7 linked regions of the Homo sapiens genome follow. The protein of the gene in region 4 purifies or fractionates together with the protein of the main gene of each other region. This does not show direct contact. Each region holds a gene or a part of one and is shown on either strand. Other genes may lie near its edges. The genes, in order: ZNF184, ZNF624, KNOP1, FGF13, YTHDC2, NMNAT1 and DDX31.

Region 1 (4,566 bases), on a different chromosome or scaffold from region 4:
CCTATTTAAAAAAAAAATCTCTGAGTGGTACTCCAGTTAGAAACTTGCTAAAGTTTGAACATGGCATACATTTTTCCCCCGTAAAGAAGAACCTCACCTACATCCCATTAACTCTAGAGACGTATCGCTTACCTAGAATGACTAGGTTTGTTTGTTTTTCCAGGGTCAGATCCTTAGGTTACTTCATGCAGTTTGGAAACTGATGATTTAGAAGAAAGTTATTCATAATTTCAAAAACTGTATGATGAAGTGATAAAATCAGAAGCTAGCTAGGTGCAGTGGCTCACACCTGTAATTGCAGCACTTTGAGACGCTGAGGCGGGTAGATCACTTGAGCCCAGGAGTTCAAGACCAGCCTGGGCAACATGGCGAAACCGTGTCTCCACTAAAAATACAAAAATTAGCCAGGCATGGTGGCGTGCACCTGTAGTTCCAGCTACTCGGGAGACTGAGGTGGGAGGATTACTCAAGCCTGGGAAGCAGAAGCTGCAGTGAGCCAAGATTACGCCACTGCACTACAGCCTGGGCAACAGAATGAGACTTTGTTTCAAAAAAAGAAAAAAAAAATCAGAAGCTATACATGTTACTAGGTAAGAATTAGGTGATAAAGAAACGAAGCCTGCAGTTATGGAATTCATTTTTGTTGAGTTTGCTTGGGAAAGAAAAGATAAACTGAATGGTGGCCATAAAGATTCATATTGTGGAGTAAATCTATTTGGAAATATAGGTTATGTATTTCTATTTAAAAGTACTGGGAATGGAGCCCGTAGATCCAAAATAAAAAATTGTAAGGACTGAAAAGTACGGTGATAATTATGAGATCATGGTCCTAAAGGAAGTAGAAAGAGATGTAATTCAGAGTCCAGTTCGAGAGGTGGATTTCATAGAAAGGTAGGAAGGACATCTCCTCAAAAAGGGGCATAACATAGAATATATATTGCAACAATTAGTGACATAACAAAGCATAAGAAAGTCCAGAAAACAGATGTTTTCCCATTTCTCCACAGGAAATACTTTAAAGGGAAGAAAGTACATCTACACTTCAGACATAAAATCCTCTCTTATCAGGCTGACAGTCGGAGTTAATGATATTCATCTGCTGGCATCCATGACTTACCTGCACAGGTACCTACTGGAATGCTTGGCTCCATGATCCATGGCTCTGTCCCTTGCTCTAACTGGGAAATCACATCAGGTTTAGAAACTTGGAGTCCTGTTCATTAGGGAAAAAAAGAAAGAAACCTGCAGTAAGGGGAAAGTACCATATCAGAATTCAATCACCACTTTGTCTTTAGAAGAAATGATATGTAGTAAAAACCTGATGGGAGTGGATAGCATATCAAGCTTTAGTGTTACCAGTTCCCAGACATGGTGGGAGTATAATTTGGGAACTGATCGGGGTTCAGGAAAATTATTATTTTGTCCCTCTGCTTGCTAGGATGGTAGAAACCTTTTCAAAAACTAGAAATTTAGAAATGGTTGGTTACTAAACTTAAAGGCAAACTCCCCTGAGCACAAGAGAGAACCCTCCTCCTGCACACCCCTTGATATTAACTCAGAGAAATTATCCTTACCTATAGAGACCAGGTGTGTATAATTTTCCAATGTCACATCCCTGAACAAATCTCTCTGGCCAGGGTCCAGCTGTTTCCATTCTTCCTGGGTAAAGTCCACTATCACATCCTTGAAAGTCACCGCTTCCTGAAATACCAAACATATTTCTGCTTAGCCATAAGCATTTACTTAGGAAAGGGGTAAAGTTAGCAATACTGACAGAAGTAAGGCAGTCTATAGGATGTCTGCAAAATAATCTTGACATTTTCTCCTTTATGAAATAAATGTAAAAACAGTGCCTCATCCATTGGGTTATTGTGAGAATTAAATAAAACATTCCATGTGAAATGCTTAATTTAACGTCTGGCATATAATAAGTGCTCAGTCAATATGGCCATTGTTGTTGTCCTTCATCGTCATCATTACCATCATCATCTCTGTGTTCCAAGGTCCGCTAAGTATTAATGGTTTAACTATTATCATCAATATTTTTTACTACCTACAATGTGCAAGAGCACCCAAAGGTTTTTTGAAAAAGAGAGGTGGAAAGACTTGCCCTAATACATTTCAAAAGATAAAGTAATTTAAAAATGGCCTAGTCTGGAATAAAACAAAATGAAATAAAATAGAAAATCCAGAAACAGATTCATATTTATAAGAGTTAAAAGGCATTAAGCAGCTTTCAAATTGGTTAAAAGTTAGTTAAATTAAAAGTAAGTTAAAAGTGAAATTAGTTAAGATGGATTAGTCACTAAATCATGCCATAACAAACGACTGTCTATGAAAAAAAAATTAAGGTGAGATCCTTACTTCACAACACACACAAAAATTCCTGCCAACCTAAAGATGAAATCGTAAAGAAAAAGTCAAAATAAAATAGAATAAAAAACAGGAAAATATTTGTATAAGCTTGAAATCTGGAAGGCAAAATTTACATGATGGAGAGAGAGATCGATAGATATAACCACATAACAATGTAAAACATCTATAAGACATCATAAACAAAAGGCAATTTAAAAAGCTTCTGCACAGTAAAAAAAAAAAAAAAAAAAAAAAAACAATCTACAGAGTTCAAGACAACCTGCAGAAGGGGCAAAAATATTTGCAAACTATTCATCTCACAAGGGACTAATATCCAGAATATACTCAAATCAACAGCAAAAAAATAAATAATACCATTAAAAAGTGGGTGAAGTATCTGAATAGGCATTTCTCAAAAGAAGACATATAAACACCCAAATATATGAAAAAATGCTCAATATCACTAAATGCAAATCAAAACCATAATAAGATATCATCTCACCCCAGTTAGTCAAAAAGACAAAAAAAAAAATAACAAATGCTGGCAAGGATACAACACTGGTGGGAATGTAAATTAGTACAACCATTATGGAAAACAGTTTGGCACTGTCTCAAAAAAACTAAATATGGAACTACCATATGATCCAGCAATCCCGCTAATGGGTATTTATCCAAAGTGAAGGAAATCAGTATACCAAAGAGACACATGCATCCCCATGTTTGCTATGGCTTTACTGACAACAGCTAAGATATAGAATCAACCTAAATGTCCATCAACAGACGAATGGATAAAGAAAATGTGGTATATATACACAAGGGAATACCATTCAGCCATTTTAAAAAAGAATAAAATCTTGTCATTAGTGGTAACATGGATGTACCTGCAGGACATTATGTTAAGTGAAATATGCCAGGCACAGAAAGATAAATATCGCATGTTCTCATTCACATGTAGGAGCAAACAAAAACAAAACGAGCTCATAGAGAGTAGAATTGTGCTTACTAGAGGCTGGGAAGGGTAGAGGAGGGAAGGCTAGGGAAAGACTGGCTAACAGTTACAAAGTTACAGGTAGATGGAAGGAATAAGTTCCAGTGTCTATAGCACTATAGCGTGAATATGGTTAACAATAATTTAGTGTATAATTACAAGAAAGTAGAAGAGAGGATTCGGAATATTCACAACACAAAGAAGTGATAAATGTTCAAGGTGATGGATATGCTAATTATCCTGATTTTATCATTACACATTGTATTCACGTACCAAAATATCACTCTGTATCCCATGGATATGTACAATTATTACATGTCAACTAAAAATTAAGGGAAAAAAAAAAGATCAACTACCCACAACAATAGCAACAATAAAGGCCAACAACCCAAATAGGCAAGTCACCGAGGAAAATGTGAAACCATGAAAAGATGCTCCCCTCCCCTAAAAATATAGTTAAACAGTAAAATATCAGACTGGGTAACACTGCTAAAGTGCTCATGTGTCCTATGGTGGAAACAGAACCCAAATGCAATCTATCTGGGGGGCAATCTGACAAGATCTATCAAAACTTTAATGGATACACCATTTGATCTGGTCTTCCTACTTCTAGGAATTTATTATTCAGAAACACTTCTAGGTACAAAGACATATGTACAATTGCCATTTCAACATCATTTGTGTGGAAGGAAAAAAAATCAAACTTACATGCCCATTAATAGGATAGTGGTTAAAAAATATATAGTACACCCATACTAAAACACTTTATATAGATAGTTATCAAATGATGTATATCTATACGTACTCATTAGAAAATATGTACACAAGAGGACAGGCATGGTGGCTCACACCTGCAATCTCAACACTGTGGGAGGCCAAGGTGGGAGGACTGCTTGAGCCCAAGAGTTCAAGACCAGCCTGCGCAACACAGTGAGACCTCATCGGCACTAAAGATAAAAATAGAAATAAGCTGGGCGTGGTGGCACGCACCTGTAGTCCCAGCTCCTCAGGAAGCTGAGGTGGGAGGATTGCTTCCACCCAGAAGTTCGAGGTTGCAGTGACCTATGATCATACCACTGAACTCTAGGGTATAATCCTACTTTTCTTTTTATGAATAGGAAGAACGTTTATATGTAAATGAACAGAAAAAAATCTAAAAGAATACTCAACCAAATACTATTGGTGGGACTGGGTAGTGGGACCTATAGGCAATGCAGGCAACT
Region 2 (5,314 bases), on a different chromosome or scaffold from region 4:
AAAAGGAAGCAGGTATAATAATAATAATAATAATAATAATAGAAGAGACATGAAATTCAGTGCACAAAGCATTAAGCTATAGTCTTTTTATATTGAAAAAAAAGTATATACCTAATAAAAGTTTTATCCTATGGAGCAACAGGGTGGCAGAGATCTTTTCCAGGGATGCTTGGGCCCTGCTTTTCTACCTTTGGCTAATGATATGTATGGCCTTGCTGAGGCTGAGTTTGGTTCAAGAACCAGGAGTGCCTGATGTAGGATATCAAACAGTACAGATTGTCAATATAAATTCTTCTAGGATGGTAATACTAGCCTCATGAATCTTTATTCATGAGGGCAGTGACATAATAAGTATTAAGTTTTTGTACAAAAAGTGTTATAAGCAATTATATGGTCCTGCAAGTAGGGCCTTTGTTATGCTTAAACATGTGGAATCTGCTCCTTCCCTGAATGTGCACCTTGCTTCTCATAACGTTCAGTAGCTTTGCTCAATAAACATAGCAGAACTTAATCTAACCTTACAGTGTCTAACAATCAGAAGCTCATCTGAAAAGATACTTGAAGTACTTAACCATTATTCTCTGAAAAACAAGAATATATAAAGCAAGGTTATCAAGAATGCAAAGAATATTAGAGATATAAAAATTAACTAGATATGGGTATACTGAAACATATACTGTCAGATTAATGTATTAACTCAAGGAGGAGACCAGGGTTAGTTAAATCAAGAAAATATGTAAATATCTTGGCTGGGCATGGTGGCTCATACCTGTAATCCCAGCACTTTGGGAGGCCGAGGCGGGCAGAGCACCTGAGGTCAGGAGTTTGAGACCAGCCTGGCTGACACGGTGAAACCCTGACTCTACTAAAAAATACAAAATGATCAGCCAGGTGTGGTGGTGCACGCCTGTAGTCCCAGCTACTCGGGAGGCTGAGGCACTAGAATTGCTTGAACTTGGGAGGTGGAGGTTGCAGTGAGCAGAGATTGTGTCACTGCACTCCTGCCTGGGCGACACAGCGAGACTCCATCTCAAAAAAAAAAAAAAAAAGTGAGTATCTTAAAAATGTAGAGTGACCTGTTTCATGACACTGGGGCTTTCCTAGGCACAATGAAAAGGTTTTGGTGGAAGAGAAACAATGAGAAGTTGAGGGAGGAAAGCGGTACAGTGTGGAGATAAAAGAGGTAAAGAAAGAATAGTCTGAGGGGATTCCTGTATTGAAGCCTCAAGGTAACCAGTAAGTGGTTTTGCCTTATGCCAGTGTTTCTCTAGATTTTTCTGTCATAGAGCCTTTTGCAAATCTAATGAAAATTATGACTCCTCTCCTGTTTTCTAATGAAAACGCCACATGTATAACTAGAGGGGTCTCAAATCTGAGAATGCAAAAAACTCACTGGATATGCTTATTAAAAAGGAAATTATTTGGCCCCATCCAAGATCAAAATCAGGATCTCTAGATGTGAGGCACAGAAATATACAGCTTGAACAAGTACACCTTAAGAAATATTTAGTTTAATATAATGTTAACATGTTAATTATATAATGTTAAATTATATAATGTTTTAGTTTTAGTGTAATATTTTAAGAAATATTGCCTGTTACACAATAGGGATTCTGAAGGGTGAAGGAGTGGGAGGGGGGTGGAGAATAAGGAATTACTTAATGGGTATAATGTACGTTATTCTAGGGACAGATACCCTGAAAGCCCTGATCTCACCACTACACAATCTATGCATACCAGTAAATCTTAATTTTTGGGGGGGTACGGACCCATCTGAGAATCTGACCTTGTCCACAAAATAATGCACATGCATATATGATGTTGCATATTACTTCAGAGAGCTTGAAAACTGACTCTCCCTCCCAAGCCCATACACTGACCCCCAAGTTTTACAAGGTTGCAAAGAAAAAAAATGAGCCAAGAATATTGCCCCATCCCGCAACCCCCGAACACTAAAGCAGACCTACAAAGAGCAACATAAGGCATTTTCAATTCCGAAGGTCTAGAGTAATGGTTTTCTGCATCTTTAACATTTATCAAGAGTGAGCTGAGTCATCATTTTTAAAATATTTGTAAATATTAATAAACTCTTTGGCAATACTTTATGTAGATTATGTAGATTATGCTCGTAACATATGTTTAACAACCAAACTACAATAAATCCCTTGTTTTATTTTATAATTAGAATAAACAATATTTAACATTTAATATATTCAGCTTGATCTCAATTGTGCAAATGTAATGCATAGAAAAAAAGACTGAGTAACCCAAAACTCTACTGAGACCTCTGAGACCTGGGGCTGTGATGTTTACCCTTCTTTCTGCTTTTCTGTACTCTCCAAGCAGACAAGAAGAAGTATCTACCTATACATAGGAGTGTGGAATAGGAATAAAATCCCAGAGTGGCTGGCCACATCCCCAGGTTCTAACCCTGCTTTGGCTACCGTAAAACTGTGACCACAGGCAAGTCACTTGAGCACAACGAATCAGCTATTAGTACATGACAGTAGCCACCTTATATGTTTCTACTGTCCCCTTTGTCATTATGCAGAAGATATCTAGGCCACTATTCCCCAGTTATAATTTCCCTATTTACAAGCTCTGTCTTTCCAACTATTGCAAACGTATCCAGAGACTTAAGGAGAAACTTTACTTGTTTTGCTTCCTTGGCCAGTGCAGTTATTTAGAAATAATGAAGGGTCCATGTTTTTGCTGAGAATCTCAGCGCCATGTACCAGTCCAGCATTTCCCAACCAATGCAATAATACCATTGTCATGTCAGGGAGTGACAAGTGATTAAAAGGTGATTACAGTATTTGAAATGTGACATTTCAGGAAAAGCTGCCTCGGTTACTGAGTAGCGCAGGTCCCCCGATGTGGAACCTAGTTCCATCCCTGCCAGTTCAGAAGCCAGAGCGGATATGCTCCTGCCAACCTCGCCTTCTTTCCCTAACTGCTCTCCTCTACCCACTTCGGGTATGCCCTCCTCAGGGCCTGCAAGGCGCGGGGCTGGGAAGACCGGGAAAGTCGGGTCAGGGGCCCGCCCGCCCTACTCGACTCCCTGCGCCCTGCGCCCGGCTCTTTTTAACCCCAGCGCCGCCAGGCCCGCAGGGAGGGGGTTCCCGGGTTTGGACCCGGACTAGGAGGCCGCATAGGGCACGCGGCCCTACCTGTGAGGGAGGCCAGCTGGAGACTGAACCCACACTCGGGAAGGAGGCCCAGCCCCAATCGCCTCTCAGGAGTGGGCGGGTCCGCTCAGGGACAGGGGCTCTAGAGGGAACGGCCACGCCCCGGACGCCGCCGGGAGCCAAGCGCCAAGGGAGGGGCGGCGGGCAACCGAGGCCAGGCGCCCGGGACAACGAGTACCTGGCGGCCGAACTGAGGACAACTGAGGGAACTCGCAGAGCAGGGCGGGAACGCTTCCAGCAATGGCGGCGGCTCGGCGGTGCCGGCCTCCAGGCAGGGCATTGCGCCTGCGCAGCCGGAGCGTCGGAACTACAGTGCCCAGAATCCTCAGCGCCTGAGCCCCCCGCCCCTTTTGTCTGCGTTAGTGAAGGAATTGGCTCTTCGAGGGTGAGAAAAAATTCCAATTGGATACACTTCTGTTGAGAAGCCTTGACTATGTGTCAAAAGCAATAGCACTAGAGATACAAATAATGACACAACCCTTGTCTTGGAACATTTAGGTGCGACTAAAGAAAGCCGTCGAGAGAACAGATAGATGTGATCCAGACAAATATGTGAACAAGTGCTTGGAAACACATATTTCTGAACAATTCCCTTTATGACAATTCCCTCAGAGTTGGAAGAGACAACAATTGATGACTATAATGCCAATTAAGTAGAATGGATATGAATGTCTGAAAATAAGCTGGAAATTTTAAGGCCAAAATTCTTCGAAATACAAAGAAAAAACCTTTCTGAAGACAAATAGCTGTAGAAGTTCTCCTCAATGCATACAAATGATAATTCTTAAAACACAATGACTGAAAGTATTTATTTGCAACAAATTTATTTGACCACTTATTCAAGGGCTGCTCGTCCAAGAGCTATATTAAGGTCTATTTACTTTATCCCTACCAAAGGCGGTATTTTTTGAGGATAGAAACTACATCTCATGGAGTTTATCACTCAGAGTGCCTACTTAGGAGACTGCTTGCATACTGAATGAAACGAAGGAAGAATGAATGAATAATTTGGGACCCCACCTCCCAACACACTTCCACATATCGAAATGCACACGGAATGAGGTACATCTTCTAAGGAGAGTGGCATTGAAGAGTAATCAAAACAACAGGATATTCACAGGAGGACTGGAATAAAACGAAATTTCCAGTGAAAAAGATTACTCAAAATATTTATTCAATACACTCTGAAATTAGAAACTAAGCAAATGTCTTTTGGAGATCCCAGTTCCCTCACATTCCCCACAGATGAAGATGAGCCAAACAGAAGTCCAAAACTTAAACATTACAAAACAAATAATAAAATAAGACACTGTGACTGAAAATCAGCACAAACAATAAACGGCAGAAATATATCCCCCAAAACTTCAGAGGCAGAGCTCATTTGATTAAAAATTTAAAATTATTACATTTAAAATGTTTAAGGACATGATAGATGGAATTAAAAACATTATCAACAAACAACAGAATGTAAAATAAGCCACCAGGAAAGTTTAGAGAAACATACACATTTCGTTAAACTATTAAAAAAAAATGTTTAACACAATATTTAGGGTAGATTATTACTTCTACAGGGATAAAGTCCAGGAAAGACAGACACACAGGTGACTTCAAAGGTATTGGTAGTGTTTTATTTCTTAATTTTGGTAGGAGTACACTGTTCAATTTGTAGTGATATTTGTTATAGGCAATTTTGTGTGCATTTTATATTTAGTAATTTTTAAACTCTTAAAGAACTCTTCTGTGAAGGAAGAAACTAATGCTTTTTGGCTTCAAATAATAAACCAATGGTTAAAAGTTACTTGAAGATAGATTTTGATTCAGATTGTATAACTTTATGCTAACAACGAACAGCTTTAGAAAATAGAGTAGGCTACCTTGTGCAATAATGAATTTGAATTCTTTGGAGAAGTTCAGGCAGAGATTAGATGAATCCTTGCTTAGAATTTTTAAATGTCCTCTTGGGAATTTGATTGCATGACCTGCAAGCTCTCTTCCACATAAGCATTTTGTGTTTACATGAATATTCCTTTCATTACATTTATTTTTCCTCCCATTGGGCCAGGTAATGAATAGATTTGTATCATCATAATGTGTTATGGAATACTTAGGAATCAGTGACATTAAGG
Region 3 (4,517 bases), on a different chromosome or scaffold from region 4:
GTGAGTATGTATTGAGCACCTGCTATGTGCCAGGCACTGAGCAGGACACTGGAAATAAACCAGGAAACAGGGCAGACAGCAATGAATGAGTATAGTTATTCCCTTGACTCTCCAGGTGCGCCTGGAGTGGGTTATGAATGAACTTGACCTGTAGCTCAGGCCTGGCTCTTTGAAGCTGCTAAGAGAGAGCCAGCTCCAGTGTGGACCCTCTGAGTTCCGAAGCTGAGGAGGGCTGCAGGATGGAGAAGTTTTTCCTTTCCCTCCCATGATCCTAACTTGCTATGAAATATTTTGGGATATTTTGCTTCTAGATTCTGGGAATGTCTAGTGCAGGAACTTGGCTGGGGACTGGAGTGAGAGCAGTGGTCCAGCTGGACACTGATGGGTATTGAGGACCCCAGCCCATTCTCACAGGTGCTTCCACGATATCTGTCCAAGACAAGCTGGGTGCCCTCAGTACTGTGCATCATTGTGACTCATTCAGTGTTGGCAATCAACTTCAAATTTTAAAAACAGTGGAACTAGGCCAGGCAAGGTGGCTCATGCGTGTAATCCCAGCACTTTGGGAGGCTGAGGCGGGCGGATCACTTGAGGTCAGGAGTTTGAGACTAGCCTGGCCAACATGGAGAAACCCCGTCCCTCCTAAAAAAGAAAAAAAAAATTAGCTGGGCATGATCACGGGTGCCTGTTATCCCAGCTACTCAGGGGAGGCTGAGGCAGGAGAATCACTTGAACCCAGGAGACGGAGGTTGCAGTGGGCCGAGATCACGCCACTGCATTCCAGCTTGGGTGACAGAGCAAGACTCTGTCTCAAAAAAAAAAAAAAAAAAAGAGAAAAAGAAAAAGGGAATTAACAGTGTACCAAGCCCTTTCCATGGGTTATCTCATTTACTCCCTCCAACACCCTTTTGAGGAGGGAGGTGTTATATTCCCCCATTTTCCAGATGGAGAAATTGAGGCTCAGGGAGGTTAGCTGATTTACTTAAGGTGAGAGAGGCATTTAGGTTTGAACCTAGGGCTGTGTGGATTTAAAATTTACGCTGTTTCTGTAGTATTTCTTTTTTTGCTTTAAAGGAATCATGTCCATTTTCCCTGTCCCACAACGCTTTGACCACCCACTCAAAGAAACATGGCTCTTGGCAATGCTTAGTAGAATTGAACACAGGATGGCTTGGTATGGGATAACTTGTACCATTTGTTTTTTCAGGAATGATCACCAAGACACACAAAGTAGACCTTGGGCTCCCAGAGAAGAAAAAGAAGAAGAAAGTGGTCAAAGAACCAGAGACTCGATACTCAGTTTTAAACAATGATGATTACTTTGCTGATGTTTCTCCTTTAAGAGCTACATCCCCCTCTAAGAGTGTGGCCCATGGGCAGGCACCTGAGATGCCTCTAGTGAAGAAAAAGAAGAAGAAAAAGAAGGGTGTCAGCACCCTTTGCGAGGAGCATGTAGAACCTGAGACCACGCTGCCTGCTAGACGGACAGAGAAGTCACCCAGCCTCAGGAAGCAGGTGTTTGGCCACTTGGAGTTCCTCAGTGGGGAAAAGAAAAATAAGAAGTCACCTCTAGCCATGTCCCATGCCTCTGGGGTGAAAACCTCCCCAGACCCTAGACAGGGTGAGGAGGAAACCAGAGTTGGCAAGAAGCTCAAAAAACACAAGAAGGAAAAAAAGGGGGCCCAGGACCCCACAGCCTTCTCGGTCCAGGACCCTTGGTTCTGTGAGGCCAGGGAGGCCAGGGATGTTGGGGACACTTGCTCAGTGGGGAAGAAGGATGAGGAACAGGCAGCCTTGGGGCAGAAACGGAAGCGGAAGAGCCCCAGAGAACACAATGGGAAGGTGAAGAAGAAAAAAAAAATCCACCAGGAGGGAGATGCCCTCCCAGGCCACTCCAAGCCCTCCAGGTCCATGGAGAGCAGCCCTAGGAAAGGAAGTAAAAAGAAGCCAGTCAAAGTTGAGGCTCCGGAATACATCCCCATAAGTGATGACCCTAAGGCCTCCGCAAAGAAAAAGATGAAGTCCAAAAAGAAGGTAGAGCAGCCAGTCATCGAGGAGCCAGCTCTGAAAAGGAAGAAAAAGAAGAAGAGGAAAGAGAGTGGGGTAGCAGGAGACCCTTGGAAGGAGGTAGTTTTTCCTTCAGAAATGGACTTTGCCGTGGGAGAATTAAGGGTGGGGTTTGGGAGGGGTGTGTAGGCGTGTGTGCATGTTTGTACATGCACGAGTACTCATGCTTTTAGCTAAAACCCTGGTTAAATTAATTTCAGCCAGAATAGGGAGTTTATTGATATATGCAATTGGAAAGGTTATGGTTAACTAGCTTCAGGTATGGCTGGATCTAGGGGCTCATGCAGTATCATCGATAATTGCAGGTATCCTTTGCTACTGAAACCACCCAAGTTTTCCCTGTCTGCCGTTGGGGTCTGAATTAACTGGGATCAATTTTTCAGATGAATCCCTTGCTTTCTGAACTCTTGCCACTTGCTATCCAAAACTCAGGAACCAAGTAACATGAGATAACGTAGTGCCTGTAGCTATCTGAGTATCATCACAGCTCAGTATACACAATTTATACATCAAATAGATTTGGGTAGCCGGAGATGCCTGTATGAGATTTCCTCAGCTCTGGGCTTTGTATTTTTCTATCTTGGTTTATGGCCCATCCTCCTCCTCCACCTCCATCACATTGTGACCTGATGGTCCCGGCAGCTCTAGGCTTTCATCCCAGCAGTTCAGCCACCCCCAAAGGAAGAAGGGTGGCCCCTGTAAATCTATGACAGAAGTCTCAGGGCCACTATCGCAGGCCTCAGTTGGGTCAATCTATCCAGAAGCTCTAATCTAAAACCAAAGGTGGCCGGGTGCGGTGGCTCATGCTTGTAATCCCAGCACTTTGGGAGACCAAGGCAGGCAGATCACTTGAGGCCAGGAGTTCGAGACCAGCCTGGCCAACATGGTGAAACCCCATCTCTACTAAAAATACAGAAACTAGCTGGGCATGATGGCAGGCGCCTGTATTCCCAGCTACTCGTGAGGCTGAGGCACGAGAATTGCTTAAACCTGGGAGGTGGAGGTTGCAGTGGGCCGACATGCCACTGCACTCCAGCCTGGGTGACAGAGCGGGACTGTCTCAAAAAAAAAAAACTTGAGGTGAAGGACAGGGCGGGTATCAGTCCTAACTAAACCACACCGTCTGAGATGCGGGGAGGCAGTTTCTGAGAGGAAAACTGGAGTTCTGTTACCAGGAGGGAAGGAGTGGATGATGGCTTGGTGAAAACCACAGAGACCTGCTGTCTTCAGCCTGCCAGGCTGCCTGGAGTGGGAGAGGGAGGCCTGAGGTGAGCCGGAGGGCTGGTGGCTCCCCAGACCCACAGCCTTTCCCAGCTGAGCCCCTTCCAGGGCCAGGCCCCCATTCCTGTCCTCAGGTGTGTGCACGGACGTGTGGGCCGAAACGATGGTGTGTGTCTTGTTTCAGGGTGTGTGTCCTGCTCCAGACAGTGTCCGGCCCTTCCGTGTGGCCGGTGGCTGACATTTCTTGAGTGTTTACTGTATGCCCAGACTGCTTTGTATCAACCCATCTCATCCTCCTACCTGTCTGGTGAGGTAGCTGCTGTGGGCACCCCCATTTGACAGATCAGGAAACTGAGGCTCCAGAGACTTAATACCTTGTCTAAGGCCACACAGCTGGCAAGAGGTGGAGTTGGGATTCAAACTCAGCTAGTCTGGCTTCTGAAGTTGGCATTTATCCCTTCTCAGAAACCATCTATGTAACCTCTTGTAGAAGCCGGTATTAGTAGAGCCCCAGAAATGACCATCTTTCCATTAGCATAAACCCCAGATTCTCTTCCGAGCTCTGCACCAATCTGCTGGGTGACCTTGGACCACCCATTGCTCGGTTAGAGGGGGAGGGGAGTGGAGGGGTGGCCTCCATATCAAAGGCCTCCAGGTGTTAGCTTTGGTTGCTAGGATTTTCCCAGCTTTGCCCTAGTCCATTAGCCTTGGTTTTACCAGCATCTTCCTTTATTCAGAAACTTGGAGTTGGGAGGAACCCTAGAGGCTTGGGCCCAGCCGCCATCAGACTCTAGAATCCCTTCTCCCAGGAGCTCAGTGAAAGGGAGTTCCCTCTGCTTAACATCTGTGGGGGGACTCTACCTCCCACAGCAGCCCACCCAGTCCAGCAAATGCACATGTGTTGCAGGCCTGGATGAGTGATGGGAATGGAGAGGGCTTCCAGGGTCATCACACACGTGACGCTAGGTGCCAGGCACAGCACACTTCTCAAGTGAGGACGCATGAAATGTCAGCATTTGTCGTTACTGAAGAACCCCAAGAAAGTGGCCGGCCTGAGGTCTCGCTGTTGGAGGGTGTCTTCAGGGCCAAGGCGGGTGGGAGAGCATGGTGCATGTTAGTGTGGTCCTTGGCCTCTGTCCTGTAGTTTGGTGTCACCGTAGGAGGTAGGTGACGTGTGTAGTGGGAAAGGTCGGACACCAAGCCCTGGGTCAGGAGATGTGGGTTAGAAT
Region 4 (4,557 bases):
GATTGGACATATATTAGATTAGACACATATAAGAAATTAGGGCCTTCTCAAGTCTTCCCTAGGTATGTACACAGCCCTGCCCATACATGCAGCCTTCTAAAATTCCCAAGAATATATTGAAACTTTTAAAATCCTCCTATGGACATCTCATTCCTTAGCTTTTCCTTTTAAGTTTTTCTAGTCAACTTTGTGTTTGCCCTAACTGTAGTTGACATCTCAAGCAGCTGCAGTGTGGAACAACTGCCACGGATTGATTTCAACAAAAGCCTGTTCACACTGAATGAGGTTGAATCAGGTGAAACAAAGACAAGTTCTACAGGTTGGGATATTTAGAGAACAGGTCCCTGATGACATTCTGTAGGGATAGAGCTGGCAGACACCCTTAATGGCATTCTTCCACTTTTGATGGCTGCCAGACTGCTGTTTTTATGCCACTATAATTGCAGGGCACTTGGCTTTTGAGAATATTGCAGAGCTGAGTAAAAGAATATGGAAATATGGTAAGTTAAAATGCCACAGATTTCACTGTTCTTGCCAATATCCAGCAAATTTTCTAAAATAAAGACTTCTCAAATTCTTACAAGTTTTTAGTTAATTTCCAGAGTTATGAACAAGTTAATTTAGAATTTTCACCTGTGTTCTTATTGCTTTTATGGATGAAAGGGTTTTCAGAAGTTCTTACACTGCAATTTTAGTAATTAACCACAGGAAGAAAATATGCAAACTACACATCTGACAAAGGATTCATAACTGGACTATATAGCAAACTCTGAAAACTCAATGAAAATTTCTTAAAACATCCAATAGAATATAGAGAAAATTCATCAACAATCATTTTGTAAAATAGGATATATGTATCGAAAATAAACACATGAAAAATATAGCTACTTTAAAAAAGTTTGGCAATATATTACAGAACTGAATATGTGATTATTATATAACTCAGAAATGCTTATTAATTTGTCTTAGAGCAATGAAAGCCAATGATCACACAAAATCTTATACATGAATGTTCATAGCAACTTTATTTGTAATAGCCCAAAAGTAGAAAGAACACAAATGTTGTTCAACAGGTGAATAGTTAAACTATGGCACATCTCTACCATGGAATACTACACAGAAATTAAACATATTGCATTACTGATATACACAACAGTTTGGATGCATCTCAAGGGAATTGTGCTGAGTGACAAAAGCCAATCTCTATGTGTTATATACTGTATGATGACATTTATATAACAATTCTGAAATAATAAAATTATAAGGATGAAGAACAGATTAGTGTTTACTAGCTTTTATGGGTGAAAAAGGATGACAGGGAGATGTTTATAAAGGAATAGCACAAGGGATCTTAGTGGTGACGGAACAGTTCCATATCTTGATCATTGTAGTGGTTACCCAAATATACACATGTGGTAAAATTGCATAGACCTACACACATAAACGTGCACGCACACACACACACACATACAAATTAGTGTATGTAAAACTAGAGAAGTCTGAGTAATGTCTGTGGATTATACAGATGCCAATTTCTTGGTTTATATATGATACTGCAGTTATGTAAGTTGATACCACTAGAGGAACTAGATAAAGGGCATATAGCACTTCCCTATACTCTTTGCATCTTCCTTTGAATCTATAAATATTTCAAAATAAAAGTTTTAAAAGATCAGTTGGAATATACACATGCTTATTCCTATAGTAGTGTTACTATATTCAGTTATTAATATATTCTCATAGCTTTCTTCATATGAAGATAAGGTATAGGGAAGAGTCATATCTAGTATTTGGGAAACTGAAAGAAACCCCAGTGGACCCACTTGAGTGTACATCATGGCAGGAAAAAAAAATTGTTTCAGATGTATTATTTTCTGGTACCATAGATAAAGAATAAGGATAATGCAATGGGAACAGTTGAAATATTGGCTTGTTTACTTGCATTTGTATGTTTGTTTTTAAATTTTTACCCTGTGCATTAGTTCATTCTCATGCTTCCATAAAGAAATACCCAAGACTAGGTAATTTATAAAGGAAAGAGTTTTAACTGACTCACAGTTCCGCATGGCTTCGGAGGCCTCAGGAGACTTACAATCATGGTGGAAGGCCCCTCTTCACAGGGTGGCAGGAGAGAGAATGAGTGCCAGCAGGGGAAATGCCAGATGCTTATAAAACCATTGGATCTGTTATAAATCACTATCATGAGAATAGCATGAGGGAAACCACCCCCATGATTCAGTCCTCCACCTGGTCCCACCCCTGACACATGGGGATTATTACAATTCAAGGAGAGATTTGGGTGGGAACACAAAACCAAACCATATCATTCTGACCCTAGTTCCTCCCAAATCTCATGTTCTCACATTTCAAAACACAATCATGCCCTTCCAATAGTCCCCCAAAGTATTAACTCATTCAAACATTAACCCAGAAGTCCAAGTCCAAAGTCTCATCTGAGACAAAGCAAGTCCCTTCCACCTATAAGCCTGTAAAATCTAAAGCAAGTTAGTTATTTCCAAGATACAATGGGGGTACAGGAATTGAGTAAAAATACCCATTCCAAATGGGAGAAGTTGGCCAAAACAAAGGGGCTATAGGCCCATGCAAGTCCAAAATCCAATAGGGCAGTCGTTAAAGCTTAAAGTTCCAAAATGATCTCCTTAGGCTCCATGTCTCACATCTATCCAGGTCACAATGATGCAAGGGGTGGGCTCCCACAGCCTTGGGCAGCTCTTCCCCTGTGGCTTTGCAGGATGCAGCCACCCTCACAGCTCTTTTCATGGGCTGGTGTTGAGTGCCAGTGGCTTTTCCAGGTGCATGGTGCAAGCTATTGGTGGATCTACCATTCTGGGGTCTGGAGGACTATGGCCCTCTTCTCAGAGCTCCACTATACAGTGCCCCAGTGAAGACTCTGTGGGGGAGCTCCAACCCCACATTTCCCTTCTGCACTGCCCTAGCAGAGGTTCTCCCTGAGAGCTCTACCCCTGCAGCAGACTTCTGTCTGGACATCCAGGCATTTCCATACATCCTCTGAAATCTAGGCAGAGGTTCCCAAACCTCAATTCTTGACTTCTGTGCTCCTGCAAGCCCAACACCATGTGTAAGCTGCCAAAGCTTGGGGATTGCACTCTCTGAAACAATGGCCTGAGCTGTATGTTGGCCCCTTTTAGCCACAGCTGAAGCTGAAGCAGCTGGGGACGCAGGGTACCATGTTTCAAGGCTGCAAAGAGCAAGGGGGGGTGCCTGAGGCCTGGCCCACTAAACCATTTTTTTCCTTCAAGGCCTCCTGGCCTATAATGGGAGAGGCTGCAGTGAAGGTCTCTGACATGCCCTAGAGACATTCTCCCCATTGTTTTGGTGATTAATATTTGTAGTGATAGGAATATTCTATATCTTGAAAGGAGTTTCTGTTACATGGTGCACGCATTTGTCAATACACATGAATTGATATACCTAACAGGTTTGTATATGATACAGTATATAATTTTAGCTCCATTTCTCCCCCAAGAAATATAGAAATATTAAACTCTACTTCCTGATATGCATGATAAAGGGTTTAAAGATGAAGTGCATTGATGTCTGTAACTTATTTTGAAATGCAAAAAAATAATTATTTTATAGATAAGAGCATTAATTGATGGATATATTTTCATAATGAAATGTTGGGGGAAATACTTGGAAGTGAATATAATCAACTAACTTGCAACCGTAAGTTGGAGATTGTATCAAATTTGTTAGAGGTGTGGACCAAGCCAAATTAAATTGTAACTATAAGTTTTTTAAAATTTGTGTTGAGCTAAATTGTAAGGTAAACTGAAAGAAGCTGTGTAAAAGAACCAAGGATCATCATGGTAAAGAGAATGAACATGAGGTGTGTGTGTCTGTGCATGCACACATGTGTGTGAGAGAAAAAGAGAGTGAGAAGGGGATAGCTGGGCACAGTGACTCACAATTGGTATCCTCAGGACTTGGGAGGTGGAGGTGGGAGGACCACATGATGCCAGGAGTTCAAGACCCACCTGGGCAACATAGTGAGACCCCATCTCTACAAAAAATGTAAAAATATTAGCTGGGCATGGTGGCACACGCCTTGTAGTCCCAGCTACTTGGGAGGCTGAAGTGGGAGGATCACTTGACCCAAGAAATTCGAGGCTGCAGTGAGCTGCGATTGTGCCACTGTAATCCATCCTGGGTGACAGAGTGAGACCTCAACCCCAGAGAGAGAGAGAGAGAGAGAGAATATTTTAAATTATTTTGTAAAACTCAACAATTCCAAAATAAACTTTATTCAAGGAAAAAAATAATTAAAATATGCATTTTAGATATTGGGGTGATGTCAGCAAGATGGCAGAACAGGAATTTTCTCCTGTCATTTCCCCACTATCTACAATTTTGACAACCACTCAAGTATGAGAGTACCTTTGTGGGAGTCTGGTAGTCCAGCTCACAGATGGAGCAAAACAATTACGAGAATAGGCACATTGAAAAGAACCAGAAAATAGTTTCACTACTTATGTCAACCGTCTCTCAAGCTAGCAGAACTCAACACCAAGAGAT
Region 5 (4,566 bases), on a different chromosome or scaffold from region 4:
AAATTGAATATATTATTATGTTTACTGGATTATTGATAATTTATATCCAAAAGTTATAGCTTTAAACAGAATATAATGTCTTCTTCATTTATGTGTTAAAAATTAAAAAACAATAAACTTACAGTGTTTTAAAGTAGATCTTAAAATTTATAAGAGCTGAGAACACATGGACACAGGGAGGGGAACATCACACACCAGGGCCTCTTGAGGGGTTCCGGGATAGGGGAGGGATAGCATTAGGAGAAATACCTAATGTAAATGAAGGGTTGATGGGTGCAGCAAACTACCATGGCACGTGTATACCTATGTAACAAACCTGCATGTTGTGCACATGTATCCCAGAACTTAAAGTATAATAAAACATTTACAAGAGCCAATTATTAAGTTGTAGAAGTTTAATATTTTTCCCATTGAAAATAGTCTTACGTTATTTTTCTGCTAAATTCTTTAAGAGAGATTGGATTTATTTGAACTTCCTAGAAATTCTGTTGATAATTGCTAGTGATAGCAGTAGTTTACATTTTTACATATAAGATGAAGAAGCAAGGCATTTATTTCAGTAATTTATGTTGATTCTTGCTTTTGGAAAATAGCATAATCAACTTGCTTTTAGTATAGAATTTTCTAATTAACAGTCATGTTAAGTTGGTACCTACTGAGTTTTTTAAAAATGTGAACTATACATCAGAATATTGTTTATAGTAGTAAACAATTAGATACAACCTATTAAGAAAATATAAATGATAGCTGAAAGTTTGTGGTTTTTAACAGTTTTATTGAGATATAATTAATATACCATATAATTCACCCATTTAGGTGACCAATTCAATGGTTTTTCATATGTTCACAGACTTATGCAATCATCACCACAATCAATTTTAGAACAGTTTCATCACCACAAAAAGAAACTTGTACCCATTAGGTGTCTCTCCCTATTCCGCCCCAACTCTCCTAGGCCTCCTCCAGCTTTAGACCAACCACTAATCTACTTCCAGTTTCTATAGATTTGTCTATTTTGGACATTTTATATAAATGAAATCATGTGATATGTGGTTTTTGTGATTGGCTTTTTTCAGTTAGCATAAAATATCCATGTTGTAGCACTATTTTTATGACTAATACATATTCTATGGATATACCAAGGTTTGTTTGTATATTTGTCAATTGATGAACACTTAGGTTGTTTCCACTTTCTGACTATGAATAATACTGGTATGAATATTTGTGTACAGATTTTTATGTGGATATATTTTTTTCATTTCTCTTATATATACACCTAGGAGTGGAATTGCTGGGGCATATGGTAACTCTATGTTTAACCTTTTGAAGAACTGCCACATTGTTTTCCAAAGCAGCTTTACCATTTTACATTTCCACCAGCAATGCATGAGGGTTTAAATTTCTCCACACCCTCTCCAACACTTGTTATTGTCTGTCTTTTTGATTGTAGTCATCCTAGTTGGTGTGAAGTGGTATTTCATTGTGGTTTTGATTTGCATTTCCCTGATAGCTAATGATGTTGAACATCTTTTCATGTGCTTATAGGCCATTTGTATATTTACTTTGGAGAAATGCCTTCAGATTGTGCTTTTCTAAAAGCATTCATTGCCAAATTTTACTTTGAATAATGTGCTTGAAATCAAAACATGAATCATATTATAGCTAGGACATTAAGTGTCACTTACCTTACCTTCCTTAGGGAATATTGGAAATTTGAAGGACATAAGGATTACTTTTGTTAATGGAAATTGACTTTGTCTTTTTTTTTTTTTTTTTTTTCAGTGCTACACTGGAATTTGGAAATCTAGATGAAAGTTCTCTGGTTCAAACAAATGGAAGTGACCTCAGTGCTGAAGACAGAGAGCTCCTGAAAGCTTATCATCATAGTTTCGATGATGAAAAAGTAGACTTGGATTTGATCATGCATCTTCTATACAATATCTGCCATAGTTGTGATGCTGGTAAATACGTGTTGTCTAAAAGAACTGGAGCAAAATATATACTTTAAGAATTAATATTTTAAGTGTACAAATTTTTATATAATTGCACTGATAGTAGTAAGTGAATAATCTCCTGTCATCTTATGATAGTTTACCAGTACTTGAAAACATGTGATACAGATTTTTATAATTCTGTTGATTGCCTCTGATTCACAATGAGATTTAATATTAAAAAGTCATTCTTCTCCAAGGTGCAGTACTAATTTTTCTGCCTGGATATGACGAAATTGTTGGACTGAGAGATCGCATCCTGTTTGATGACAAGCGGTTTGCTGACAGTACACATAGGTAAGGGCTAAAGCCTTATATCTGTTGCTTAAAATAACGGACAGGTCTTATAGTATGTTTTCTCTTTCAATTGTCTGCAGATACCAAGTCTTTATGCTTCATTCAAATATGCAAACATCCGATCAAAAGAAAGTATTAAAAAACCCACCTGCAGGTGTTCGAAAAATAGTAAGCTTCATAAAATCTTCTTTTTAACACTTTCATTAGTTATTTTTTCTGTTTTTTTATTAACTTTAAAGTAATATCTTGTTGCAGATTCTTTCCACCAATATTGCTGAAACCAGCATCACAGTCAATGATGTTGTCTTTGTTATTGATTCTGGTAAGGTGAAAGAGGTATGTATGGGTAAGTTGTAGTTTTACTTAAATGAAGAAGATTAAGTTCTACTTCAACAAATACTTTTATTTATTATTTAGTTGTTTTTCTTTTAATTTTACCTCTACTCAAGACAGCTTGGACCAGCGCATGCTTTTATAAGCAGAATTTACGAAAAATGTCTGGTTCTAGATAAATTTAACATACTAAATATTGATTTTACTAAATATTCTGCCTTAAATAATTCAGTATATAGAATCAATTTTTGTTATTTTAACAAAGTATACAAAAATGTAGCTCTGCTCACCAAATACTAGGAAGAAAGTAAAGGGTTTGGTTAGTTATAGTGAAAATGTTGTCACACAGTATGGGAATTTGATTACATATTTTTTATGTTTTCCTTCTACATATGCACATGGATTATGTCTTTGTTCACTGTTAAATCTTTAGTGCCTCACCTATAGCAGGTGTTCAAAAGATACTCAGTTCAAGAGAACCATGCTGAAAGAAAGCAAAGAAATAGATAAACCATGGGATAACCAGCAGCTAAATTGGACTTAACACTTGCTTTTGTAAAAAAAAAGTTTCATTGGAACTCAGCTAGTCTACTTTTACCTTTTCTCTATGGTTGCTGCCTTCATACTGCAAGGCAGATTGGAGTATTTGTAACAGAGACCCTCTCAAAGCCTAAAATATTTACTATTTGAAAGTCCTTTTCAAAAACAGCCAACCTTTGTTATAAAAAAAAAAAAGCCATTTATTTCCTTTTAGTACTGGAATGCCCAGCAGTTGTCCATGTTCCTAACTTTTGGTAGATAACATTCGCTGAAAAAATGAAAGTGGTAAAGATAATTGATTTTTCAAGGGAAGACATATTACTCATGTGTGGAAAGCAAATTATATCTATTTAGTGGATAAAAATGATCGTTTTTAATGTGAAAAAAGTAATTGCCTTATGTTTTCAATGTAATTTTAAGGAATATTTTATAGAAAATAAAATTTTATTATAAAAATTGGCCATATGCTTTATAATTGAATAAAGGTGGGATAAATTTTATTTTTATATAATAGTACATTAATGAGTATTATCACTAAAAATCTTAATGGTGAGCCAATGAAAATTCAGATTTTATTGCCCTAAAATTACCTAAAGTGGATAAAGTGGGTTTTGAATATTTTAGAAAGTTCCTTTAGGTGTTACTTATTTATTAAGTAACTGAAATTTAAAACATGGGTAGTGTCAAAAGTTATTTAACATACAAAATTGACAAATGTAATGTCATATTAAAAACCAAATAAGCTGTTTTCTAAAAATTTTATAAACTATTATGCAAACATTTTTATTTGCTCTATGCAGTTATTTTATGAAAGGGAAAGTATAAGTACCGAGTGACTGAAATACATGTTCTAGTTAGGCTTGTATTTCTTTAAAATATTTCTCTACAATAAATTTTCACTGTAGGTTATTTGAATAAGTATGTGGATAACAATGGTTCTTTTTTACTTTCTTCATTGTAACGTTCGGGAAAGGCTAACTTTGTTAGTAGCTCAGCAGGAAGTAAAGTGGAAGTGGTTAAAAATATTTCTCTTTGGGATAAGATTATTGATTGTTATTCTTACTCCACAAGGTTAGGTCCCTGAAAAGTATTTCAGAAAATGTCTTTCCTTGATCTTCTTATTCTGCACAGTGATGCAAATCTGATAGGAAAGTGACCTCAAGGGAATAGATCCGTTCTCTCCAATCTTGATGTCTTATGAGAACTGGCTGCCATTATCCAGCTGTGGCAGAGAGCAACAAATAGCTCAGCAGAGCACAGAATGGAGAAGTTTTACGCTCTTCTGAGTTTAGTTTTTAAATCCTTTTTTCTTAGTATGTTTGTAACCAGAAAATCAGGGTTTATTAAAAATCAGTACTGCTGTTTTAATTATTTAATCAAGAGAGGACTTTGAATTAAACTTTTG
Region 6 (4,566 bases), on a different chromosome or scaffold from region 4:
GAATTTTCTCATCTTCCCCAACTGACACTCTGTACTTCACCTCATTCCCCTATACAGTTAAATTTCTATTGATATTGCCAAATTACTTTGTAAAAAGCCTTAATTTGTATTGTCCACCTAGATGTATGCAAAAGCCCATTTCTCAATGTCATAGGCAAATAGTGAGCTTTAGCATCCATCCATCCATCTACCTATCAGCATATTATATGATCATTTATGTAACAAAAAAATCGAGGCCAGGTGTGGTGGCTCACACCTGTTATCCCAGTGTTTTGGGAGACCAAGGCAGGAGAATCACTTGAGCCCAGGAGCTCAACACCAACATGGGCAAAACAGTGGGACCCAGTTTCTACAAAAAATTAAAAAATTAGGCCAGGCGCGGTGGCTCACTCCTGTAATCCCAGCACTTTGGGAGTTCGAGGCGGGTGGATCACGAGGTCAGGAGATCAAGACCATCCTGGCTAACACGGTGAAACCCTGTCTCTACTAAAAATACAAAAAATTAGCCAGGCATGGTGGCGGGCACCTGTAATCCCAGCTACTCCGGAGGCTGAGGCAGGAGAATGGTGTGAGCCTGGGAGGCGGAGTTTGCAGTGAGCTGAGATCATGCCACTGCACTCCAGCCTGAGCGACAGAGCAAGACTCTGTCTCCAAAAAAAAAAAAAAATTAGCCAGATGTGGTGGCATGCCTGTAGTCACAGCTACTCAGGAGCCTGAGGCAGGCAGCTCACTTGAGTCCGGGAGGTAAAGGCTGCAGTGAGCTGTGATCATGCCACTGTACTCCAGCCTGCCCAGCCAGGGTGACAGAGTGAGAACCATTTCCACAAAAAAAAAAAAAAATCTGTGTATACACACAAATGTTTGCATATAAATTCATACAAAGAAGAGTGGAAGGATACACATGAAACTGTTATGGTTATGCTATGTTATGGTGGCTCATGCCTGTAATTCCAGCACTTTGGGAGGCCGACGTGGGAGGATCACTTGAGAACAGGAGTTCAAGAGCAGCCTGGTCAACATGGTGAAACCCCATTTCTACTAAAAATACAAAAATGGGCCGGGCATGGTGCTGTGTGCCTGTAATCCCAGTTACAGGGGAGGCTGAGGCAAAAGAATCGCTTGAATCCAGGAGGTGGAGGTTGCAGTGAGCCAAGACTGTGCCACTGCACTCCAGCCTGGGCGACAGAGCGAGACTCTGTAGAGTCAAGGTTTCGCCACATTGGCCAGGCTGATCTCAAACTCCTGACCTCAGGTAATCTGCCCCTTCTGCCTCTCGAAGTGCTGGGATTACAGGTATGTGCCACCACGCCCAGCCTATTCATGCATTTTTTTTTTTTTTTTTTTTTTTTTGAGATGGAGTCTCGCTCTGTCACCCAGGCTGGAGTGCAGTGGCGACATCTTGGCTCACTGCAAGCTCCGCCTCCCAGGTTCACGCCATCCTCCTGCCTCAGCCTCCCAAGTAGCTGGGACTACAGGCACCCGCCACCATGCCCGGCTAATTTTTTTGTATTTTTAGTAGAGATGGGGTTTCACCGTGTTAGCCAGGATGGTCTCAATCTCCTGACCTTGTGATCTGCCTGCCTTGGCCTCCCAAAGTGCTGGGATTCCAGGAGTAAGCCACCACGCCCAGCCTCATGCATTGTTTATGAAAACTTTTAGCTGGGTATGGTAGCTCATGCCTGTGATCCCAGCACTTTGGGAAGCCTGAGGTTGGGAGTTTGAGACCAGCCTGACCAACATGGAGAAACCCCGTCGCTACTAAAAATATAAAAAATTAGCCGGGCGTGGTGGCACATTCCTGTAATCCCAGCTACTCAGGAGGGTGAGGCAGGAGAATTGCTTGAACCCAGGAGGTGGAGGTTGCAGTGAGCCGAGATCGCGCCACTGCACTCCAGCCTGGGCAACAAGAGTGAAGTCCATCTCAAAAAAAAGAAAGAAAGAAAGAAAAAAGAAAACTTTTAAAAAGCTGTGCCTGATCCTAGAGGTTTTATGTATGCTAAAGTACAAGCTTTCGCTTTTTGCCTTAAGTAATGGGAAACTCCTAAAGAAGATTAAGCACAGGCATGACAGAATCAAATTCCTTTTTTTGGGGAGGGGTGGTCAGGGTCTTGCTCTGATGTCCAGGCTGGTGGGCAAAGGTGCAATCATGGCTCACGGTAGCCTAGACCTCCCGGGCTCAAGCAATCCTCCTACTTCAGTCTCCTGAGTAGCTGGGACCACAGGCACATGCCACCATACCTGGCTAATGTTTACAATTTTTTTTGTAGAGATGAGGTCTCTCTCTGTTTCCCAGGTTGGTCTCAAACTCCTGGCCTCAAGTGATCCTCCCACCTCGGCCTCCCAAAGCACTGGGATTACAGGTGTGAGCCACTGTACCTGGCTGTATTTTCTATTCTACAGGCCATAGCCAGATGCTCAATTCTTCCCTCATACTTCACCCTCTTTTTTGGCTAAGAATTCACTGTACAAGGGAGCAGGACAGCATGTTTGTGCCCAGTCAATGAAATGTGTATTCTGAAACAGACCCAGTCATGCCGGTTCTCTAGTATTTTTTTTTTTTTTTGAGATGGTGTCTTGCTCTGTCTCCAGGCTGGAGTGCAGTGCAGCAATCTCAGCTCACTGCAACCTCCGCCTCCCGGGTTCAAGCGATTCTACTGCCTCAGCCTCCCGAGTAGCTAGGACTACAGGCACAGTGAATTTTCGTATTTTTTAGTAGAGACAGGGTTTTACCATGTTGGCTAGGATGGTCTCGATCTCTTGACCTTGTGATCTGCCCGTCTCAGCCTCCCAAAATGCTGGGATTGCAGGTGTGAGCCACTGCACCCGGCTGGTTCTCTAGTCTTAAGCCACTTTTGGTTACTGCTCCTACCTGTTCCATTCATGTAGTCCTTGGCCAGCTCAAACAACCTGAGGTGCATGTTGGTGATGGGATTGAATGAACCACAAGCAAGGAGAACCACTTCAGTCTTCTCGGAATTTTCCATGGTAAGAACTTGAAGTTGTTGATCTAAATGGAAAACTGTGACACCTCCCTTGTTGTCTACAAAGGAAAAAGAAAATAAATTCAGTTATGCATTTTTTTTTCCCTAAGATAAGGTCTTGCTCTGCCACCCTGGCTAGAGTGTAGTGATGCAACCACAGCTGACTGCACCCTCAAACTTCTGGGCTCAAGTGATGCTCCCACCTCAGCCTCTCAAGTAGCTGGGAACACAGGCACATACCAATAGGCTGGCTAATTATTTTAAAGACTAATTTTTGTAGAGATGGGGGTCTTGCTATGTTGCCCAGGCTGCTCTCAGACTACTGGTCTCAAGCAACCCTTCCACCTCAGTCTCTCAAAGTGCTGGGATTACAAGCATGAGTCACCACGCCCAGCCCAGTTATAGGTCTTTTGATGTCCTTCCACATTCTCATTCCCAATAGATGGATTAAAAGTATTTGGCTTTGGCTGGGCGTGGTGGCTCACACATGTAATCCCAGCACTTTGGGAGGCTGGGGCGGGTGGATCATGAGGTCAAGAGATCAAGACCATCCTGGCCAACATGGTAAAACCTCGTCTTTACAAAAAATACAAAAATTAGCTGGGTGTGGTGACAGGCACCTGTAATCCCAGCTACTTGGGAGGCTGAGGCAGGAGAATCACTTGAACCCAGGAGGCGGAGGTTGCAGTGAGCCGAGACTGTGCCACTGCACTCCAGCCTGGCGACAGAGAGAGACTCCATCTCAAAAAGAAAAAAAAAATTGGCTTCAATCATTATGCTAACTCTAAAAATGTTTCCACATCTCCATCCCTCCTTTTCAATGTGAATCTGCAACTTCTACCATGAAGAGATGGAAGTGACTTCTCCACATTTTTTGACTTGCTTTGGGCAAAAGAATGTGGCACAAGTGTTAGTGTGGAGGATGCCAGAACATGTGGGAGAGCACCGATGCTCCCACTGATAGACAACCACCCCACATGTGGGGAACATAGCCATCCCCGACCAGCCAACTACAGTCCATCTGCTCAGACACATAAGCAAACCCAAGTGAGATCAACCAAACCTGGCTCAGATCGTCAAGCCAACAAGCTGACCCTAGTCTCAAAAACAAAAAATTAGTGTTCATTATCATATGTCACTCAAGTTTTGTGATTGCACTATTGTGGCCACAGTTAATTAATACAACAATATTATCATCTACCAAATACAGCATTTTTGCCTTTTAGTCAACATGATAGTAACATCATAACTTTCCACTAAATAATAGAATATAATTTACAAACCTCTTTTTCATATCAGTTATTCCACTGATCCTTCCATAACCCTAATGAAGTAACATAAGGCATCCAATTTTAGGTTTTTATTAAAATTTCTTTTTTTTTTTTTTGAGACGGGAGTCTCACTCTGTTGCCCAGGCTGGAGTGCATTGGCGCGATCTCAGCTCACTGCAAGCTCCGCCTCCCAGGTTCACACCATTCTTCTGCCTCAGCCTCCCGAGTAGCTGGGATTACAGGTGCCTGCCACCACACCTGCCTAATTTTTTGTATTTTTAGTAGAGACGGGGTTTCATCATGTTAGATGGTCT
Region 7 (3,309 bases), on a different chromosome or scaffold from region 4:
GTAGGCAATTAGTGTATCAGTCACTCCAGTAAGATGCTGGTTCTTTATTTTGCCTTAGCGGTAGCAGGAGCCATCGTTGAAGTGCTGGAGCTTATGCTGGGGAGCATATTTTGACTGAAATTTTGCATATTTTGAAACTTAGGTTGTTACATTTAAAATTATACACATTGTGAACCTGGCTTCAAACAAGAGGGAAGAAAAAGCATTCCTTCCTGTCAGACCCTTTTCACTCTGTCACATAACCTGACTAAAAATAAACTACAGGCACAGGAACTGGCAGCCTTCAGTTTGGAACAAGTTGAGTGCGCCCAACCGCAGGCCCTGTCTCCCGCCACTTCCCAACCACAGGTCAGCCCCCAGCAGCTTGGACCTCCTCCAGGGACACTGGTGCACATGGTCCGCACTGGGCGGGTGACCCATGATGAGACTCGCTGCTCTTAGGGAAGTGGTGGATGCTCTCAGAAGAGCCCCAGCCCAGCTGTCAGGGGCCGTAGCACCAGTCCTGGCTCCTGTGTGGCTCTGGGGGAGGTGCGTGGCATCTCCAGACCTCAGTTTCCTAATGTTTAACTGTGACTGCGATCCACATGCCAACCACCAGCTACCCCCTTATATGTCTTGATTTTTTCTAATCCTCACACCTGAGTGCCATTCTCAGTGAGGAAACTGAGGCACAGAGCCTGAGTCACTCATTCTGTGTCCTCAGCTGATGAGTGATAGTCAAGTTCCAACCCTGGCTTCTCCCTCCTCCACCCTGCAGCTCTGCTGTCTCCCCTCACCACTCCCTACTCACTTGCCTGGCTCCTGCCCCACTGTCCTGCTGAAGTAGTCCTTAGGAGACCACAGAGGACCCCTCCCATCACATCTCACCATTTTCCACCCTTGGTCCAGCTGAGTCCTGCCCCCGCTGACCCGGCAAATCGTTCTCTGCCCTGAGTTTGCCTCTTGGCTTCTCCACTTACCAGCCATGTGGTCCTGGGGCAGGTTACCCTCCTTGAGTCTTTGTGTCCTTGTCTGTAAATGAGGATAATAACCGTACCCACCTTGTTGAGCGAGGATTGTAAGAGATTGTGTATGTGAATCATTTCCCACAGACCCCAGGAAGTCTTCCCTGTATACTTCTAATCTTCTCACTACATCCTGCCCTGATGTGCTCACCCCATAAACTCCTGGCCTTTAAATGTTATCTGTTCATTGTCCCCTTGTTTCAGATCTTCTTTTCCTGCAGAGGTTGGCTTGAATGTGTCTTCCTGTATGTTGCAATAGAAAACACCATTGTATGACTGTCACCCTGTCCTCTGGAGTGTGATTAGAAACAGGTATTATTGCTTTAGCTCGTTTATAATGGGTTTCTACAAGCTTTCACAGTCAGGTTAACAACACACTATTAGTCTTATTTCTAATTCTTGGGTTTTAAAGGCATTGTTACATTTATTTTGACCACAGTTTCAGTTCAGTTTATTCTCTGATTACAGCAAAGAAAATGCTCTAAATGTAGTAGCAGAACGTAACATATGTCTTTGTGAGAACTCCATGACACTATAGTATCCTAAGACATTGCCGTTTTGGTATTGAAGGAGTTGCCAGCAAGGAAGTGTGGATTTATTGGTAATTGTTTTATTGTTGTTGCTTTGGTTAAAATCCTGTCTTAAGAAACATTGTTTTACTCTTCAGTTTTCATAATCATTCTTCTTATGTATGATTGAACATCTACAAATTTCCTCCTCTGATCTTCCGATCAAATGGTAAAATTGCCATCTTTTCAGAACAGTTATCAGGATTCGACATCGGAAATTGATTTTCAACCTTTGGCATTTTCTGAGTGACTTAGGGTAGGGAGAGACCTCCCTCTAACACCCGGGTTTGTGTGGGCTGCAGAAAGCTGCTGGTCTAATCCTAGATGCAGACATTGACCAGGCTGTGCCCTGGGTTTGGGTTTTGTAGGGTCAGAAATATGTTTAAGAGTTTTTTCCGTTCATAAAGAGCTATCTGGCTGTCATCCCAGCCTTCACTGTGGAACCCTGGAGGGCTGCGTGGAACTTGCTGGACTCTGCTCCCGCAGGGCTGAGTCCTGAAGCCCTCAGGAGCCCATGAGGAGGCCAGTTGCTTTAAGCTGCTTAGGGGTTACTGGGAAGCTGCCGTGAGCTTTCACTGCTTCATGTTGTTGAGTGTGACGGTGGGTTTTTCCCTGTCCTTTGGCAAACCGCTGTATCATACACCTCATTTGCCATCAGAGCATGAGGGTGTATAGTTCTTTTTTTCCCCATGAAAACAACACAGAACAAAGCCTCACTTTTAAAAATGCCATGATATTTTGCCGCTGTTATGAAAATCTGTCAGCGCCGTATCTAATCTTCTGGTGCATCGAATATCAAAACAAGTACTATTGAAGGGATTGTACTTCTGTTAATACAAAAATGTCAGCTTCACAGTCTCAGAACCAGCTGCTATCAGCCTCTTTCCAAATGGGAAAGAAAAATAATAAAGTTTCTTTTCCCTCTCTGCTGTTACTGTTCTTCAGGCCTGACCTTCATAAGAAGACCCAGAGTAAACACAGCCTCGCTGAAATCCTACGTTCGGAATACTCAAGCGGCATGGAGGCCGACATCGCCAAGGTCAAAAAGCAAAACGCACCTGGAGAGCCTGGTGGCCGGCCCCTGCAGCACAGTCTGCAGCCGACACCCTGCTTTGGCCGTGGGAAAACATTAAAATGGAGAAAAACCCAAAAAGGTGTACAGCGGGACAGCAAGACTTCCCAGAAAGTTTAAAATCTCTCTGGGTCTTCGAGTGGAACCTGGAAGCCCCGGGTGGCAGTGGATTGATGTCCAGTTCTTGTCAGAGGAGGCTTGTGAAAAATAACTGCGCCTTTGCCTGAATACCACGTCCCCAAGAATCAGAGGGGCCACAGCCCTTCTCCTCCATGGGAGGCCCTGGAGCCTGATAGAAATCAGTGGTGTGGGGCACTGTAGAGACTAGCCAGCTCCCGACGGAAGGGGTCTGTGTCTTGTATTGATCCCATCAGTGCCCGGCACTCCCTTCACCCAGGTGCTGACGTGCCGGGGTTGAGCTGGCACCCCGGGATGTGATGTAAGAACGCCCTGCGCGTCAGCCTGGAACGGGCTTGATTGCTGCCCTTAACTGTGTTCTGAAGTTTCACAGCTTGGCTTCAGCCTATCAGCGCATACATTGGCATGAATTTTGTGAATTAGGGTGTTAAAAACTGGAATTGAATTTGTACAAAAAGAGAATATATTTATCACTAATTATTTTCTTAATGTAGGAATGTACCGTTAAAAAGGACCAAAAGTTTTT

The links.
Region 1: the proteins of FGF13 (region 4) and ZNF184 purify together in Homo sapiens (affinity purification with mass spectrometry; one large-scale study listed by BioGRID and IntAct). This does not show direct contact.
Region 2: the proteins of FGF13 (region 4) and ZNF624 purify together in Homo sapiens (affinity purification with mass spectrometry; one large-scale study listed by BioGRID and IntAct). This does not show direct contact.
Region 3: the proteins of FGF13 (region 4) and KNOP1 purify together in Homo sapiens (affinity purification with mass spectrometry; one large-scale study listed by BioGRID and IntAct). This does not show direct contact.
Region 5: the proteins of FGF13 (region 4) and YTHDC2 purify together in Homo sapiens (affinity purification with mass spectrometry; one large-scale study listed by BioGRID and IntAct). This does not show direct contact.
Region 6: the proteins of FGF13 (region 4) and NMNAT1 purify together in Homo sapiens (affinity purification with mass spectrometry; one large-scale study listed by BioGRID and IntAct). This does not show direct contact.
Region 7: the proteins of FGF13 (region 4) and DDX31 purify together in Homo sapiens (affinity purification with mass spectrometry; one large-scale study listed by BioGRID and IntAct). This does not show direct contact.

What each region holds. Positions count from the first base shown.
Region 1 is NC_000006.12:27,455,709-27,460,274, forward strand, and holds part of ZNF184 (zinc finger protein 184), read right to left. Parts: intron 1,702-4,566; coding exon 1,575-1,701; intron 1,214-1,574; coding exon 1,118-1,213; intron 1-1,117. UniProt on the Homo sapiens protein: May be involved in transcriptional regulation.
Region 2 is NC_000017.11:16,650,398-16,655,711, forward strand, and holds the start of ZNF624 (zinc finger protein 624), read right to left. Parts: upstream 3,454-5,314; 5' UTR 3,367-3,453; exon of another isoform or gene 3,171-3,366; intron 1-3,170. UniProt on the Homo sapiens protein: May be involved in transcriptional regulation.
Region 3 is NC_000016.10:19,711,728-19,716,244, reverse strand, and holds part of KNOP1 (lysine-rich nucleolar protein 1), read left to right. Parts: intron 1-1,207; coding exon of another isoform or gene 1,208-1,209; coding exon 1,210-2,127; intron 2,128-4,517.
Region 4 is NC_000023.11:138,613,728-138,618,284, forward strand, and holds the end of FGF13 (fibroblast growth factor 13), read right to left. Parts: 3' UTR 1,000-4,557; downstream 1-999. UniProt on the Homo sapiens protein: Microtubule-binding protein which directly binds tubulin and is involved in both polymerization and stabilization of microtubules.
Region 5 is NC_000005.10:113,551,399-113,555,964, forward strand, and holds part of YTHDC2 (3'-5' RNA helicase YTHDC2), read left to right. Parts: intron 1-1,782; coding exon 1,783-1,961; intron 1,962-2,191; coding exon 2,192-2,288; intron 2,289-2,368; coding exon 2,369-2,456; intron 2,457-2,543; coding exon 2,544-2,624; exon of another isoform or gene 2,625-2,634; intron 2,635-4,566. UniProt on the Homo sapiens protein: 3'-5' RNA helicase that plays a key role in the male and female germline by promoting transition from mitotic to meiotic divisions in stem cells.
Region 6 is NC_000001.11:9,970,492-9,975,057, reverse strand, and holds part of NMNAT1 (nicotinamide/nicotinic acid mononucleotide adenylyltransferase 1), read right to left. Parts: intron 3,041-4,566; 5' UTR 2,985-3,040; coding exon 2,870-2,984; intron 1-2,869.
Region 7 is NC_000009.12:132,594,322-132,597,630, reverse strand, and holds part of DDX31 (ATP-dependent DNA helicase DDX31), read left to right. Parts: intron 1-1,208; coding exon of another isoform or gene 1,209-1,263; exon of another isoform or gene 1,264-2,488; intron 2,489-2,518; coding exon 2,519-2,765; 3' UTR 2,766-3,309. UniProt on the Homo sapiens protein: May have DNA helicase activity and RNA helicase activity. Probably have ssDNA and RNA dependent ATPase activity. Plays a role in ribosome biogenesis and TP53/p53 regulation through its interaction with NPM1.